Homo sapiens: one gene and its partners. The protein of the gene in region 3 interacts with the protein of the main gene of each other region in a pairwise test. Each region holds a gene or a part of one and is shown on either strand. Other genes may lie near its edges. The genes, in order: ARHGAP44, RHOJ and TRIP10.

Region 1 (3,749 bases), on a different chromosome or scaffold from region 3:
TGACTGTCATCTGCTAAACAACGAATACCAGGAAACACTATCTCGGCATCCAACACATCAAAAGGCAGTCCACGTGAGGCTATATCTGTGGCAATACCATGCCAGAAATCTGGGCTAATCTGACTCTGCTATTCATAAATTCCCCCTCATGTTAAAGCACATGTGTTTGGGAAGGAAAAATGAATCCAAGTCAATTTTAGACATTGTTACTTGGAAACCATCTGGAGTCCCTGGAAGCATAAGAAGCCACCGCATCCCCTGCCCTCAAATGCCCACTGTAACTAGGGCAGTATGCTCAGACGGGAGTTCAGATGTCCCCTATTCCCCAGGGATGTCCCCACCCCCATCCTACCAGATGCCAGTTCAGGCTCCACTTCCCACCCAAGAAAGGTATTCGGTTTCTCCGTAAACCTAGTGGAGAGCCCTCGAGGTGTTGAGCTTGCATTTGAACTGCACCCAAGGCTGGATTCTTTGCTTTCTGATTGCTTTAGAACAGCACACCTGAATTCCTTTGCCACAGCAGCAACGGAAATCCCTCCCCAGGAGTAGGGGTTCCAGGAAAAATCCCTTCTACCTAACGCTCCTGTGTTCAAAGAATGTCTAGTCTTGGGAGCGACCCACCAGGATTTTTATGTAACCTTAATAGATGTTGGCACCCTGCAGAGCCGCTCCTGGAGTCCAGATGTAGCCCATTTTCACCGTGATGGCAGCAGGCGGGGTCTTGCAGCTTCCCGGGGCCTGACTCTTCTGACTGTGGGGCCTCTGTCCCCCTCCCCTACCTGGCTGCGATTCTCTGCTTATCTCATCTTCCCGAGGACTTGGGCCTCCTTTTTGCAGCCTCCCTCCCTCCACTGAAATCAGTCCTAACATCAAGCAGGCAGCAACGCCATTCCACCAGCACCTTCCTTCCTCTCCCACCCCTCACCCTTTCCCCCCACCAAACGCCTTAAGAAACCCGGCCAGGAAAGTGATCCAGAATCTCGTACAGTCATAGTCCCTGAAAACAAACACGGCGGGAGGGGCAGGCCGACCAGGCCCAGCACTTTCCCTGGACCCGGGAGCAGCCCTGAACTCGGCGCAGGGGAGGGGAGGGAAGAGATCTCCGGAGACCGACTGCGGTTCGGCTGCCTCCAGCACAATCAGAGCAAACACCTGTTTCCAGGAAGACAGGCGGCCAGAGGGAGAAGGGAGTCCCGGGGAAAGGCAGGGAGGACGAAGCGAAGGGGCAGCCGGGGACGCAGGTAAAGGATGCGTCACACTTTGCGCTTGGCAACCGGAGCCCGGAGCAGAAGGCGGCGAGTGAGAAGAGCTCCGGGGTCTGGGAAGTTAGGGAGGAGGGGTCGCGCCTGCGAGCGGCGCCTGGAGGGAGCTGGTGCAGGGGAAAGGACTGAGGCAAGGAGGACTGGAGGCTGGGCGGGCTCCATCACCTGCGCGCCCCTGCGGATGCAGCCTCGCGGGCGCGCACCGACAGCGGTGCCCGCGGGTGACCTACCTGCCCACCGTCTGGTTGGCCAGCTGGCGCATGCGATTGAACTGCTTCTTCATCGTGGCCCCGCTGCCGCGCTAGCCCGGGAGCTGGGGAAGGACGGAGCAGCCCGGAGCCCGCCGCAGGGTTACATGGCTCCCGCGCGGAGCCTCCCGGGCGACGGCGGCGGCACTGCGGAGCCTCCGGGCGCCGTCTGGCCCGCGCGCAGCTCCCTCCCGAGGGCGCCGCCGCCTACTCCTCCCGCCGCGCCGCCTCCTGCCGCATCCCCCTCACGCGCGCCGCGCAATGCCCGGGGCAGAGCAATGCCTGGGGCCGTCCTCGGCACCGGCCCGCTCCGCCCGGGCTGCCTGCTCCCAGTCCCAGTCCGGCGCGGGGACCCGGGAGTCTCCGCAGGCTGGCTGGCCGGCTGGCCCGGCGGTCCCCGTGCGCCTGTGCGGAGAACGCCGTGCATGCCGGGACTTGTAGTTTCGCGCCCCGTGCCCACCTTTCCTCTGTCCAAAGTTTGCAAGGACAGTGGAGTGCGGAGGTGGGAGAAGGCAGCGTCACCAGCAGCTTTGCACTTTAGCGTTCGAGTAAGGGAAACGTTTTCCTGTTTTAAAAATGGCAAAGTGGGACCAAGAATACAACAGCAAATAAAGAAAGTGAGCATCTGTCTCTCATTGTATTTTTAGTGAATGTGAGGTATCAGTGTTCTGAATTCACAGAAGGGAGATTTATGCTAGCAGATACGTGGCTGATAAAACGGTCTAAGGTCACCTGATTAATGATGAGGTTCAAGGTTAAGCTTGAAACACAGGGGCTGACAGCAGATTTTGAACAGGCATAGCTTGCATCCCAGAAGTCTGATTCTTAATTTTTACCAAACCAAACCCATTAGGTAACCAGAAGCCAATATAGATAAGTGACGTTGTGCTTACTGGCCCAACCTGTCTGAGACAGCTTTTTTGTATGGCTTAGATGCCAATCTCGTATCTAGTCCCATTTCCCTTCCACCACCAGGAGACCAAGGGGCATCAGCTGCAGCACCCCCCAAGTGTCCTGCACCACAGCATCCCATTGGCGTCAGTTGACTCCTTGGAAGGGGTTGTGGCTTCTTTGGTCTCTATCCTTAGAAAAAGATAGGTGAGCCGGGCGCGGTGGCTCACGCTTGTAATCCCAACAGTTTGGGAGGCCAAGGAGGGTGGATCACGAGGTCAGGAGTTCGACACCAGCCTGGCCAACACAGTGAAACCCTGTCTCTGCTAAAAATACAAAAATTAGCTGGGCGTGGTGGCGGGCACCTGTAATCCCAGCTACTTGGGAGGCTGAGGCAGGAGAATAGCTTGAACCTGGGAGGTGGAGGTTGCAGTGAGTGGAGATCGCGCCATTGCACGCCAGCCTGGGTGACAGAGCTAGACTCCATCTCAAAAAACAAAAAAAAAAGAAAAGAAAAAAAAGAAAAAGATTGGTGATTGCAGTTAGGTTTTATCATTATATATCAAGGTTTTATCATTATATATCAAGTAAAAGCAGTATTGTTGGGTGTGAGGCACTTTGGATTAAACAGATAGGAGTTCCTGCATCAGAATTCCACATACCTGTTATATAACCTTAGGAAAACAGCTTAACCTCTCCAAACCTCTGTTTCCTCATCCCTAAATAGAAAAATATGCTGCCTGATCTTCAGTAAGAGAACTATTTGTTAAATTACAATAATCAAATTACATATAAATTTTCATATAGTACATTGCCGTATTCATTTACTACAAAATGATTATATTTAGCATAATAGAGAAAAATCCTGTTCATACAACAGAATTACTAATCTTATAAAGGAAGGATCTTCTTTGAAATAGGATATTTTGCATATGTTGATTATAGTTGCAAGATGTCCTAAATATGGCTCTAAGTATCTTGCTGGCTAGCTGAACAAAAAGTGGTTTGAGGCATGTCTTGGCTGAATGAACATGAAATCTTTAATTAATTGTGAATTTAGCCTCTGCTTATTAGGTCAGACAACTCCAGCCAGTGAATAAATGAAGGCATTATTTGCTTTTAACCAACTATGCTGTACCTATAATGTCAATATGATGTCTATATTAAGTGAAATTATTTCCATTTTGAGATTTTTTAAAAAGCAAAGTACAACATGCTTTTTATGTGTATAAACGGTAAGACATTAAGGTCACTGTATGACTTTTAGCAACACTATCTCTGGTAACTTCCAGAACTGCACTGTTGAATATAGTATCCCCTAGCCACATGTGGTTGTTGCAATTTAAGT
Region 2 (3,749 bases), on a different chromosome or scaffold from region 3:
AGGCAGGGTTTACGACAGAGAAGCAGATCAAAAACACATCCGTGTTGGGGTAGGAGAGTGGCCTCAGCTGGTTGTAGTCCTCCTGTGGGAAGAGCAGACAAGGGTTTGTACAGCCTGTGTAAGGTGTGTCCCATGTAGTTCCAAGGTCAGATTTCAGGTAAGAGTCCACTACAGCGCACTGGGATCCCGTTTCTTCCTCAACCCTGGAATCTGGTAGTTCTTTCTCTACTAGAACTAAAGGAGCCATCAGTCAGAAAAATACCTTTTTGTTACGTACAGAGATTATGTATTGCCCCTTCTTAAGATGAACTTAAAATATTTTTAGCAGTTTTATTGAGATATAACTTATATACCTACCTATATATACCATAAAGTTCACCCATTTATTTTTATTTTTAAATTGTATACATTTAAGGTGTACAACATGGTGTTTGATATACATATATATGCTACAGTGAAACAAATTAACATATTCATCTCCTTACAGCTTACCTTTAAAAATATATTTTACGGTGAGAGGACCAGAGACCTACTCTCTTAGCATATTTCCAGTATGCAATATAGTATTATTAACTATAGTTATCATGCTGTATATTACAGCTGTAGACTTATTCACCCTAGCTAACTGCAGCTTTGTACCCTTGATCAAAACCTCCCCGTTTCCTTTCCTTACTTGCCTCTGGTAACAATAGTTCTACTCTCTGTTTCTATGTATTCAAAAGTTCACCTGACCAGGCACAGTGGCTCATGCCTGTAATCCCAGCACTTTGGAAGCCAAGGCGGGAGGATCACCTGATTCCTTGAGCTTGAGATCAGCCTGGGCAATATAGCGAGACCCTATCTCTACAAAAAAATACTAAAATTAGCTGGGCATGGTGGCACACGCCTGTAGTCCCAGCTACTCAGGAGGCTGAAGTGGGAGGATGGCTTGAGCCTGGGAGTTTGAAGCTGCAGTGAGCCGTGATCATGCCACTGTACTCCAGCCTGGGCAACACAGCAAGACCCTGTCTCAAAAAACAAACAAAATAAAACAAAAGACCAAAAGTTCACCCATTTAAAGTGTAACATTCAGTAAAGATTATTGCAATTCTTCCATCATGTTGGAATTGTGTTATATTGAATATACTATATTTAAATTAGTGAGCTATTTGCCAAGGCAACAGGAATCCTCTCCTCACACGATTAAAAAAAATTATATCCAAATTTAATTTAGAATAAATGAACTAACATGCAAAACAAGAGTTATTGCCAAATTTGACACCACAATATTTGAAGAAATATGTTGAGTGAGGGTTTAGAGCTAAGAATTTTGGATTTGTTTCAAGTATTACTTAAAGGCCAAATAAAATGCTGGCTTAATTATTTTCTTTCTAAAGATTTTTCAGAGCAGAATATGCTCATGGAAGAGTTTCTGGTTACATAAGATATTTATGTATTTGCTATTTTAGTGGGAGTTGATAAATACAAAGTAAAACTGCGCATCATTTCGACTTTGGGAAAATGTTGGCAAGGGCTTTTACTGTATGTAAAATGTTTTAGGAGGTTCCACGGTAAAACCTGATATTTCAATAGAAAGTTTTATATGTTTTTATAGAATTTAGTAACACATAAACAGACAGTAACTTTGTGTGTAAGCGTGCATACACATACCATATTTATATATACATCACATATCGCAACATGACATGTGTCCATACACACCATACATAATTTGTATGTGTATACACACTATATATGATGTGTGTGCACTATATATGTGTGTATACTATATGTGCAACTAAACTTATATGTTCACACCTATGATATACATGTATTCATAGAGATGGGTTAATAAATAATTAACTCATTTATTAGGGGCATGACTACTCTTCATGAAACATTTCAGAAACTTACAAAACATGTATGTGCTCATTGCAAAAATGCAAACATTGAAGAAGTACACAGAGTTGAAGTGAAAGCTTGTTTTCATCCCTGATATGATGTCTAATAGTATTTCCTCTCCCCAGAGGGAGCTACTGCTTAAACATTGTCCTTCCAAACATTTTATTTTACTTTATTTTATTATTTGAGATGGAGTCTCAATCTATTGCCCAGGCTGGAGTGCAATGGCGTGATCATGGCTCACTGCAGCTTCAGACTGCCGGGCTCAAGCGATACTCCCACTTCAGCCTCCCAAGTAGCTTGGACTACAGGCACATGCCACCACACCCAGCCAATTTTTATTTTTTTTGTAGAGATGGGGGTCTCACTGTGTTGCCCAGGCTGGTCTTGAACTCCTGGGCTCAAGCAATCCTCCTGCCTCAGCCCCCGCCAAAGTGCTAGGATGATAGGCGTGAGTCACCATACCTGGCCCATTTTATATTTATGTATGTATACCACATACACATGTTTAGTTTAAAAACAAATTGATTAAATTGTTCATATTGTTGTGCCACTTGTGTTTTTTAAAACAATATATCATGGATATATTTTTAATATCAACCTTTCTATTGACTCTAATAATATATTTATTAGATAACGGGTTGATGGGTGCAGCAAACCACCATGGCACGTGTATACCTATGTAACAAACCTGCACGTTCTGCACATGTATCCCAGAACTTAAAGTATAATAAAAAAAATTTTAAAAAAGACCAGAAAAGGAAGTACACACATGTGCACACTACATACACATGAGACTGAAAGGAAGTACCTTAGAATGTTAAGTATGGTCCACTCCTGTTGGTGGGCATGCATTGATCTATTGTTTAGCTACTCAGAGTATGCAGAACACGGGACTCAGTATATGTGGCCACTACTGCTACTACTATTAAAACTTAAGCACAGGTTTTAGGTACCTAATGCAAAATGCAAAGCAAGAGGGCAATGATGCTGAAAAGTAAAATCCTAAAAAATAAACCCAAAACAAAAAAAACCCCCACTATTGTGGCTAATTTACCACATTTCTAGTCAATAATTGGGAGTTGGGTGCACAGCTGAATAATCACTGGTCATACTGGGAAGTTGTGCCAGGTCTACTGGGTTGCATCTCAGCCAAGTTGTGCCTATGTCTGTGTGTGTGTGTGTGTGTGTGTGTGTGTGTGTGTTTGTGTAGCTGGTGAGGCAGTGGAGAAAGGGATAGCTAAATTCTTGGCACTACCCTCTCCTCTTTACACAACTAGCTCTGAAAAACAAACCTCCTCTTCCATGGTCTCCCCACTTCTCTCTTTTCTCTCTGGAGTGTTCCCTTAAAGAGCAGCTGTAAGGCCCGTGAGCCAAGAAGTCTCCTTCCCAGGCTATAATCTACAGCTGTTCACCACACCACCTGCCCTCTGCCACTGCATGCTCCCATCTGGATTGTCATAAATGGAGTAGGGACCATGTTGATTTTTTTCTCATCCCTACAGGTACTCTTTCCGCAGTAAATATTCAATAAATGCTATTGACAGACTGGAAGAAATGACCTCTACAGTGACCTGCAAATGAACACGTGGCACTTCTGTGGGCCATTTATTGCAGTGACTTTTATTAGAATCACCTGGGGAGCTTTTAAACCATCCTGAAGCTCTGCTAATCAACTCCTTGCTCCACCCCCTTTTCTACTCTGGAACCAGCTAAATTAGAATCTCTGGAGAGTGGGCCTGCGTATCTGGGAGTTCTGACTTAATTGGTTTGGGGTGGACCTGGAGTTGAGAACACGGCTGTACTTCACTATCATCTCCAACATTAATGGAGGATGCACCCAAGGGGTTATTGCTAAAGGTCAGCCA
Region 3 (3,749 bases):
AGATGCGGAGTTCGGGGGGATTGGAGTTTGAGACCTCATCTGGAAAAAAAAAATTAGCCAGGTGTGGTGGCGTGTGCCTGTGGTCCCAGCTATTTGGGAGCCTGAGGTGGGAGGATCACTTGAGCCCAGGAGTTTGAGGCTGCAGTGAGACGCAATCATGCCGCTGCACTGCAGCCTGGGTGACAGCAAGACCCTGTCTCAAAAAAAAAAAAAAAAAAAATCTACTCAAGGGTTGGGGTTAAGGAATATGGACCAGAATTTGTCATCGCTTCAGGGATTACATTCTTGGGGCTTAACCCTTTTCCACCTGGAGGTGCGTCCTGGGGCATCAGCCTGCTCGGGAGGAGGGGCCTGACTCCCTGTTCCCCGATTCTCATCCAACCCCAGATTCAGCCAGCAACAGTCCTTCGTACAGATTCTCCAGGAGGTGAATGACTTTGCAGGCCAGCGGGAGCTGGTGGCTGAGAACCTCAGTGTCCGTGTATGTCTTGAGCTGACCAAGTACTCACAAGAGATGAAACAGGAGAGGAAGATGGTGAGGAGCCCCCCGATTCAGGTTTTACAAAGGGCTTCTGCTGGAACCCTGGCGAGCCTTATCACTCTTCTTTCTGTAGCACTTCCAAGAAGGGCGGCGGGCCCAGCAGCAGCTGGAAAATGGCTTTAAACAGCTGGAGAATGTGAGTTTGCAGAGGTAGCAGTGACTGTGGCCCGGAGGCATGGGGGCAGGGTTGCGGATCCGGAGTCAGGGAGCTGCCCTCTTTGTCAGACCTGGACCTTCCCTCCCCCATAGGCTTCCAGTACTCCCTTGACCCCTACTTACTGGATGACATCCCAATAATCCCTGAAACCTTGGTTTCCCACCCTGCTGTCTTTGGGATGGTGGCTCCCTCACTCCGGTTCTGTCCCCTACACAGAGTAAGCGTAAATTTGAGCGGGACTGCCGGGAGGCAGAGAAGGCAGCCCAGACTGCTGAACGGCTAGACCAGGATATCAACGCCACCAAGGCTGATGTGGAGAAGGTGTGTGTGGCGGGGGCGGGGGGGGGGTGCGGGGTCTGGGACAAGCTTGGGGAGTCCGAGTGGGACGTGATCGGAACCTGGCAGTACCTTCCACCTCTGCATTCTTCAGGCCAAGCAGCAAGCCCACCTTCGGAGTCACATGGCCGAAGAAAGCAAAAACGAATATGCGGCTCAACTGCAGCGCTTCAACCGAGACCAAGCCCACTTCTATTTTTCACAGATGCCCCAGATATTCGATGTGAGTGCTCCCAGTTCTCAGACCTACCTTCCCGAAAGCCTCCAAATGTTAGCCAACTCCTACGCATTCATCAAAACCCCAGCTGCAATGTCCCAGTCCCTAGATTGAAAGGGAATCAGAAACCTATAGTAACAGTGAGCTGTGCTTTTAGTCAGCTGTTCTTCCTGCTGGGCATGCCTTTTACTTGTTTGTTTATTTACTTCTATAGAGAGATGGGGCCTGGCTCTGTCACCCGGGCAGGAGTGCAGTGGCATAATCACAGCTCACTGCAGCCTGGAACCCCTGTGCTCAAGTGACCTTTCTTTCTTTTTGAAATTCCTACTTATTCTTCTAAGCTCCACCTCTAACAACCCCTCTGAAAGGTCTCGAATTTCCCCTCTCCTGTTTCAATCTAGCGCTCCACTCTCTGTCCCATCCGTGGCCCTGGGAGTATCAGGGCTGGTTCTGCTTTTTCTTCAAATCCCTGTTCCCTTGTCTCCTCCTTTGAGAAGCCTTTGCTGACCCCCTAGGCACGCGTCCCCCTCTGAGATCCCCCTGGCCCTGTGTCTCTTCCCCAACCACAGTGGGCTGGAGTCTCTCTTCCCGACTCTGTCTTCCCCTCCAGACTGGCTTGGGGCTGGGGCCAGCGTGGAGCGCGATCATATTTGCAGAGTGAATCACTGTGCTTCTAGTCCCTCTGTTAGCACCCCTGAGCCACCCTTGTCCCTGTCCTTACAGAAGCTCCAAGACATGGATGAACGCAGGGCCACCCGCCTGGGTGCCGGGTATGGGCTCCTGTCGGAGGCCGAGCTGGAGGTGGTGCCCATAATAGCCAAGTGCTTGGAGGGCATGAAGGTGGCTGCAAATGCTGTGGATCCCAAGAACGTGGGTGCCTGGTCTGGGTCCACTGGGCTACGGGAAGGGCAGAGGGAGGTACCCATAGGCTAGGCACTCGACTGCTCATCCACTGTCCCCCTCCCCCAGGACTCCCACGTCCTTATAGAGCTGCACAAGTCAGGTTTTGCCCGCCCGGGCGACGTGGAATTCGAGGACTTCAGCCAGCCCATGAACCGTGCACCCTCCGACAGCAGTCTGGGCACCCCCTCGGATGGACGGCCTGAACTCCGAGGCCCGGGTCGCAGCCGCACCAAGCGCTGGCCTTTTGGCAAGAAGAACAAGGTGGGGGCCGGGACCCTTGGGATGGTGGGGGAGAAGGACAGTGAAGTGGGGACAGTGGGGCCCCTATTGAGTCAGCCCCAGCCGCCTGAACGCCGAGTCTCGGGCAGGAATTTTCCTCTTGGCTGCCAGCCCGGACTGGAGGGAAGGAAGGCGGCCGATTGGCCTGGGAGTCCCCCGAGGCGAAGGCGGGGGCAGGGTGGGGAGGTGGGGAGGTCCGTGGCGTTTGTCTGCTGCTTCTCGGGATGCTGGGAGAAAACCTGCTGGTGGAATTCAGGGCTGGCCTGAGGGCTGGTGACACCATCCCTGGGGACTCCCCGAGTTTCTCTCTCCATCCTGCTGATGGGACTCTGGGAGCCGCCCTGCATGTCTTGCTTTCTTGGGTTTTTGGATTTTAATATACCTTAGCACCCTTGGTTTATACCTTTGATTTATACTTTGGGTCCCTCTTCACTTACACTCTCATACCTCTCCTTGACTTAACACCTGTGATCCCCGAGCTTAAACTTCTGATGCCCCTAACCCCTCTCATTTTCCTGCCTTCCACTCCCTCTCGGCTTGTGGTTTTATTTTTGTTTATTTATTTTTGTCCTCTGTGGCCTCTTACCTGTCTGAGACCTTGATTCCTGCATGCGTCTTCTAGACTGTCAGCCCAGAAAGCTAAGTGGACAGAGAGACATGGGCCTCCCTGCCTCCTGGACCCATGCTTGCTCCCGGACATAACATTCCAGAGACCTAGGAGATACCGGGGGAGTGAGAGTTCTGGCTTTCGGGCTTACAGTTCAACATCCTCCCCGCCACCTTCCAGATTTTTTTGTGTCGCTCCTGCATGCGTTTTCTCTGTGTGGTTGTGCATCTTGAGTTGTGGTTTTCTTACCGTTTTTTTTCTTTCTCCATTTTGTTTTTCCTTTTTCCTTTTTTTGCGTCCATCCGTCCATCCGTGCGTCCATCCCTCCGTCCATTCGTCCTCACTCTCTACATCCTCCTATGCCCCCCCACCCCTTCAACCTATCCCCCTCCCCGGCCCCCGCCGGTAGCCTCGCCCCCCACCCCTCTCCCCCCTGGGGGGCCCCGTACCCTCGGCATTGCCTAACGGACCCCCGTCCCCCCGCTCCGGCCGTGACCCCTTGGCCATACTGAGCGAGATCAGTAAGTCGGTCAAACCGAGGCTAGCATCCTTCCGCAGCCTTCGAGGCAGCCGTGGGGTAAGTGAGGCCTCGGGGCAGGAGGAGGTGGTGGCCCTAGCCTGCCCAGCGGCGGGTGGCGGGACCCTGGGCTCGCTTCCTGCCGCTGGCTGGGCCCCTCTTCCCTGGTTGCCCAACCCAGACCTGCTTTGC

What was found.
Region 1: the proteins of TRIP10 (region 3) and ARHGAP44 interact in binary tests that used the Homo sapiens proteins (3 or more experiments, as listed by UniProt).
Region 2: the proteins of TRIP10 (region 3) and RHOJ interact in binary tests that used the Homo sapiens proteins (3 or more experiments, as listed by UniProt).

The regions. Positions count from the first base shown.
Region 1 is NC_000017.11:12,787,635-12,791,383, reverse strand, and holds the start of ARHGAP44 (rho GTPase-activating protein 44), read right to left. Parts: upstream 1,887-3,749; 5' UTR 1,546-1,886; coding exon 1,493-1,545; intron 1,242-1,492; exon of another isoform or gene 1,100-1,241; intron 1-1,099. UniProt on the Homo sapiens protein: GTPase-activating protein (GAP) that stimulates the GTPase activity of Rho-type GTPases. Thereby, controls Rho-type GTPases cycling between their active GTP-bound and inactive GDP-bound states. Acts as a GAP at least for CDC42 and RAC1.
Region 2 is NC_000014.9:63,277,304-63,281,052, reverse strand, and holds part of RHOJ (rho-related GTP-binding protein RhoJ), read right to left. Parts: intron 83-3,749; coding exon 1-82.
Region 3 is NC_000019.10:6,742,580-6,746,328, forward strand, and holds part of TRIP10 (cdc42-interacting protein 4), read left to right. Parts: intron 1-387; coding exon 388-535; intron 536-614; coding exon 615-677; intron 678-914; coding exon 915-1,019; intron 1,020-1,128; coding exon 1,129-1,257; intron 1,258-1,974; coding exon 1,975-2,121; intron 2,122-2,220; coding exon 2,221-2,415; intron 2,416-3,055; coding exon of another isoform or gene 3,056-3,076; exon of another isoform or gene 3,077-3,155; intron 3,156-3,449; coding exon 3,450-3,617; intron 3,618-3,749. UniProt on the Homo sapiens protein: Required for translocation of GLUT4 to the plasma membrane in response to insulin signaling. Required to coordinate membrane tubulation with reorganization of the actin cytoskeleton during endocytosis.